2 separate regions of the Homo sapiens genome follow, and region 1 is linked to region 2. The links come from fine-mapping of genetic effects on gene expression. A gene starts in region 2. The other region holds a variant in brackets. All regions are shown on one strand. Distances are between the middles of the regions.

Region 1 (2,924 bases), 50 kb after region 2:
AGAATGCATTTATTTGATTCTTTAGTGTGTTTGGCTAATGCTGGCTTCCAAACCCTTAAAGAGAGGCAGGATAATGTGTTAAACATCCATATATCTAAGATGATTTCCCACTTCCCAATGCTTATGTGTGATTTTCTGTTCCTCCTGGGAGAAAATTCACAATCCTTAACAAGAGCGTAAATTGCCTGTTCCTGCCTGTGTCTCCAGTCACAGGAAGGAAGGAACAGGTGATTTCTTGTTACTTATCCTCTCTTACACCATTGGTTTTAGTTTCTCAAGCACGTCTTTTTTCCTTCTGCCTTACAGCTTTCACAGGTATCTACTCTCTCCTTAGATTGTTTCCCCTTATTCCTTATATAGTTACTCCTACTCAATCTTTACATCTTAGTTTAAGTGTCTTTCTTCAGGAAAACTATCTGTAACTTCCCATGGTCTCCCTCTCCCACCCTTTTCTGAACTTGCTTAAATCATATTTACTTATTTAGCTCCCTATAGCCTTCATAGCACTGACGATAATCGTAATTAAGTAGTTAATTATATAATTAATTATTTAAAGTCTGCTTATTCATATTACAGTGTAAACTCAATGAGAATGGACACTTCCTTCTGTCCCCTTCTTTTTCTCCAATTTGCACAGGGCCTTGCACTTAGAAAGCACTTAAATATTTGCTGAGTAGATAAAATATTCTAGAATGTAGTAAGTATAAAGGGGGGAAAAGATTTTTTTTTTTTTGGACAGTGACTATGAATGTTATGTATACGAACAGTGTGAGGAGATGTTGCCAATGGGAGCAATGGCAATCTTGGTATAAGTTGATTGAAGAGGGTATTTATTAAGGTTCTGGCATCTAGGGCAAAGTATGAGCTCATCTTTTACAGAAAGACATTGTTCCTTCTACTGTTCATTCTAATCAGAGACTCTACTAGTCTGTGTTTGGGAACTGTAGTTCCCATGATTTCTTTAAATGTGTAGGTTAGTATTCTTTTTAATTTTAAAAAATTATTTACTGTTTTGGTTTATAGGAACTTTGCTTACATACCAAGCTGTTAGCCCCAGTTAATTGTCCCATTGCTGATTTTCTTATGAAAGCTCCTGAACCTCCACCAGCTTTAATTGTAAGAAATGCTGTACAAATGCTTAAGGTTGGTGTCTTCATAGTTTTATTTTACATGACATTTTTACTTGAAATTTTAAACTAAAAGGAAATATGTCTTAACTAATTTTGTATAATTATTTTTTATTTTTGTCCTCCTGCATGTGTCCAGATAAACTAATTTTGTACTTTTAAACAATTATCTTAAATGATCATGTACTTTAAATAATATTGTCATGTATGAAACAGTAGATATAGTTCTTTTATATAGTATAATAGAAACGAAATATATTTTTATGAGATGTAGTAGCAAAAGAAAATCTATATTCTTATTTCTCATTTAGGGGTTTTTAATTATGTGTTTTGATTAAACAGTTTGCTCACATCAAAGTCTGTTCTGTCTCCTTTTACTTAGACAATAGATGCAATGGATACATGGGAAGATCTGACTGAACTTGGGTATCATTTGGCTGACTTGCCAGTAGAACCACATCTTGGTAAAATGGTCTTGTGTGCTGTTGTTTTAAAGTGTCTGGACCCCATCCTTACAATTGCTTGCACACTAGCTTATCGAGATCCTTTTGTACTACCTACTCAGGCCTCTCAAAAACGTGCAGCTATGCTTTGTAGGAAACGTTTTACTGCAGGAGCTTTCAGTGACCATATGGCACTTCTCAGAGCATTCCAGGTACTATTACTGTCATTTTATTTCTGAAGACGTTGCTGGGTAAACAC[G/A]TTTCTGGGGCAAATGTAGGAATTTTAAAAATAATTTATAAATTTTAAAATTGCATTAATTTTGTTTCATTATGAAGTCACATTAATAGTCCTGAAAAATATCTTCTTGCTGTTGTTATGTTAAAATTAAAACAGTTTTGCTCTTTTTTCCCATTTTCTCCTTATAGGAATATATGTGTGTATTTGTATATATATTTATTTGTGTTTATGCTTCTATTACCAGGTTTCTTTAAATCATGTCTTGGGCAAGGAATGTTCTAAAATTTCAGTTAAGAAATACTGTATACTATTTAAAGTACATAGAATAAAGCTTATAAGAAAATTATATTGATGTAATATCTATCGATTTTTCTTAGAGTTCAGCCTTTTTCTTGTTTGCTCAAGACACTATGCTGAGAACTTAATTTTGTAAAGCAAAATACAAAAATCACTTAAAAACCTTTTAAGATAATGGTAATGGCAAGTTGAGGAAAGAGGCAAATGGAAAAGAAAAGATGGGGAAAATAGGATCCTGGGGAAGACAAATTAAATGTAATTTAGAATTTCAGATATGTGGGGAAGAATATGTTATTTCTTGAAAACATAGGCATTGTATTTATTCTCAAATCTTCTTGAATGTCGACTGTGTCTATACATTTTTTTGTTGTTGTTTTTTGAGACAGTCTTGCTCTGTCACCCAGGCTGGAGTGCAGTGGCACAGTCTTGGCTCATTGCAACCTCAGCCTCCCAGGTTCAAGCAGTTCTCCTGCCTCAGCCTCCCGAGTAGCTGGGGTTACAGGCACCCACCACCATGCCCAGCTAATTTTTGTGTTTTTAGTAGAGACAGGGTTTCACCATGTGGGCCAGGCTGGTCTCGAACTTCTGACCTCAAGTGATCTGCCTGCTTTGGCCTCCCAAAGTGCTGGGATTACCATGTGTGAGCCACCATGCCCAGCCATATTTTTTAAAAATCTAACTTTGTTTATGCAGAAAGTACTCTTTTTCAGACACAGAAGATTTTTTCACCACATATAATTTTCAAAAATAATTACAAGCTCTTTTGTGAGTATTGATCAATGGATAACTCATTGTTATTAATTGGGTATATTAAATACC
Region 2 (2,924 bases):
TACAGGCATATCAAGATGTTGATGACCCCAGTTCTTAGGCAACTGGGTACAAACTGGAACGGGTGAAGCTAGTTCTTTCAGCCTAGTCACTTATGCCCAAGATCAGCCTTATCATTGTACAAATATATTAGTCAGAATAAGCTAACTCTTTGTATCAGTTATCTACTGCTGTGTAAGAAACCCAACCTAAAACTTAGTGGCTTACAGCAATATTCATTTTATTTGTTTATGTGTTCTGTGGGTCAACAGTTTGGACTATGTTTAGCTAGGTGGTTTTGCTAATCTTGCTTTGGGTTGCTTACAGAGTTGTGGTCATCCAGCAGCTTTTCTAAGACTAGACTTTCCATTATGGCCTTTTTCACGTCTTGCCCTTGGTGCTGGTGGATGATTGGGCCATAGTTGTCAGTGGGCTAGCCTAAGCTTCTTTACTTTGTGGAAGAAGAATTCTCAGCAGCAAAACAGGCTAAGCCTTAATGCACAAACACCTTTCAAGCCCCTGCTTATCTCGTATTTGCTGATGTCCCAATGGCCAAAGCAAGTTACATAGCCAAAGACAGAGTCCATGTGGGAAGGAAGAATACAAGGGTGTGAACAGAGGAATGTGTGATTCATCAAAGGCCATACCTTTGATGAATTCAACAATTTACCATAATGTTACAAAAAAAAATCTTCCCAAATCTCAGCAGTTTACCACAACTAAGAATTATTTCTTACCCATGTCATATTCCAATGTGGGTTGGTGAGGACACTCTATCACACTCGTTCAGGGAATCGGGAACCTGTTATCTATCTAGTGGTTCCACCGTTGTCTAAGAACTTCCAGAAGACCAGGAAAGACAGAGAAGGGAAGATTCAAGGAAGGTGTTATAGACCAATCCTGGAAGTGGTATACATCAGTTCCAGCAACATTCCAATGGCCGGAACTCAGCCATGTGGCCCCCAGCTAACTGCAGGAGAGTTGGGAAATATAATGCCTAGGAAGAAAAGATACTTCTTGTCACCAAATATTCCGCCCCCTTCTTACCACACACAGAATACACATATACCCTCCCCAGACACCTGGAATTCTATCTAGTCACTGCATCCAGGATCTGTTGTTGATACACAGTCCTCTTTATTAGATCCAGATGTATATCCTCATTGCCAGGTAACTCATGAACTATGTAAATATGTACTACATACCTGCCCCCACTCAGCTACCCTGTGTAGCGTGATAGAGCAAGGGTGGCATACTTGCATTAAAATCTCCCATTCAGAAAAGGGAAGAATGCAAGACACACAACAGTGGCTCATTCTTTAGTATATGTATTTTTTATGATATTTTTCCAAATATTGCATGGGAAATATATACACTAAAAATTATTCGTTTATCTGAAATGCAAATTATTAAGCATTCTGTATTTTTATTTGCTAAATCTGGCAACCCTCCTCCCACTAAAATATAAACTCCATGAAGGTAGGAACCTTGGCTCTCTGGTTCTCCAATGTACATCGAAGGCGTGGCATAATGCCAGGTCCACAGTAGAAGCCCATACATGCTTACTGCAGGAATTAATGAAGGACTAAACGAAGTAGCAAGTGAGTGAATAAGAAGATGAGGAGCGACCCTTGGTGGGCGGCGCGGGAAGAGAACCGCACCATAGCTCCGCAGACAGCCTCCTTTAGGCGCGCAGCGGCGGCCGCGCTGAGGTCACGGGCGCCGGCCCTGGTGACGTCATTACGCCCGCGCTCCTCGCCTGGCCGTGATATCAATGGCGCAGGCTTCACTTCTGCTGTGGCGGTGACTGAGGCCTTTCTGGTGACCTCAGCCCAACACAGGCCGTCTCCGGAGCTTCCCGGTAGTGGCCCCGGATTCCCACGGTCTTTGTCATTGGCTGTCAGCTAGCAGGCCTGGCCGCTCCCGTGCGGAGAGACCATCTCTTCAGGGCAATGTCCAGGCCGAGCAGCGTCTCCCCGCGGCAGCCGGCTCCTGGCGGTGGCGGAGGCGGCGGCCCCTCGCCTTGTGGCCCTGGGGGCGGCGGCCGGGCCAAGGGGCTGAAGGACATTCGCATTGATGAGGAGGTGAAGATCGCAGTCAATATCGCGCTGGAGCGCTTCCGATACGGGGACCAGAGAGGTGAGGTTCCGGACAGGGACCATGCTGGCAGTCAGGATACCCCCCTCACCCCAGCGCCCCCCAAACGGCGGCCCACCGAGTGATGGGGGTGCCTCCGAAGAGGGAGGGAAGACCCGGGCCACCGTCCGGGGCGGGCCTCAGCGGCGGCACCCGGGTCTGGAACGCGGCTGTTGGCCCTGCGGTGGAATGCGAGGTGCTCTGCGGATCAATGGGGTTATGGGCACTTTGCTCCCTAGCTGAAAGTGTTTTTCCCCCGCGTCTTTCAGCAGCCTTGGGCGGTTAAGCCACCGTGTTTCAGATATTGGTTAGCCCTAACCCTTTTTAAGGGGGTGTCACCTAATTGTGGCACGTTTAAGCTACAGATGTAGAAGAGCAGAAAGAAATCAAACATATAAATAAATGCACCAGCAATACGTTTGGACCCTGAAGCATCACGCTACCCACTTAAATTAAACTTGTTTGGCACACGAAGCATCTTCCACACCTCTTGAGGTTAGATAGCCACTTGTCTTGGGTCATATAATGCAGAACCAGCAACTGACCTGCGGTGACCTGTGCAGTCTGTTGAGGGCTCATTCGGACCTGCTGGCTTAGTTAGGGGACCTCTTACTCTGGAATCTTATAGTCCAAAACGGGGAATGTTCTAGACAGAGAGATTCTAAATTCACATTAAAAAAAGAGAAAGCCTCAGCAATATATAACAAATCCCTCTGAAATAGTGAAATACGAATTCTGTACAGTTTTGAAAGCAAAGACAATGGAGTTTCATGTTGAGAATTCATAATATTTGAACATATCTCATCATTGA

Alleles and levels. Alleles are on the strand shown, and positions count from the first base shown. SD is a standard deviation of normalised expression in the study named.
For the expression in aorta of the gene that starts at base 1,728 in region 2, allele G in region 1 goes with a lower level than allele A (small effect, 0.35 SD a copy in GTEx).

Evidence for each region. PIP is the estimated chance that this variant, and not a neighbour inherited with it, causes the effect. A credible set is the group of variants that fine-mapping cannot tell apart.
Region 1: its variant is the best candidate, but not a certain one, in a credible set for the expression of YTHDC2 in aorta (GTEx, PIP 0.54).

Annotation. Positions count from the first base shown.
Region 1 is chr5:113,562,350-113,565,273 of GRCh38, forward strand. It overlaps YTHDC2 (YTH N6-methyladenosine RNA binding protein C2), which reads left to right. Exons shown (of 30, transcript NM_022828.5): 19 at 1,024-1,143; 20 at 1,510-1,782. Among named protein-coding and RNA genes, the nearest start is that of YTHDC2, 50 kb to the left of the region's middle. The variant G/A (reference allele first, on the strand shown) is at 1,830.
Region 2 is chr5:113,511,967-113,514,890 of GRCh38, forward strand. YTHDC2 (YTH N6-methyladenosine RNA binding protein C2) reads left to right here and starts at 1,728. Exons shown (of 30, transcript NM_022828.5): 1 at 1,728-2,116. The coding sequence starts at 1,930. LOC124901046 (a long non-coding RNA gene) reads right to left here and starts at 1,692. Exons shown (of 2, transcript XR_007058905.1): 1 at 1,465-1,692; 2 at 1-974. RefSeq lists enhancers at 1,484-1,533, 1,530-2,031 and a silencer at 1,984-2,213.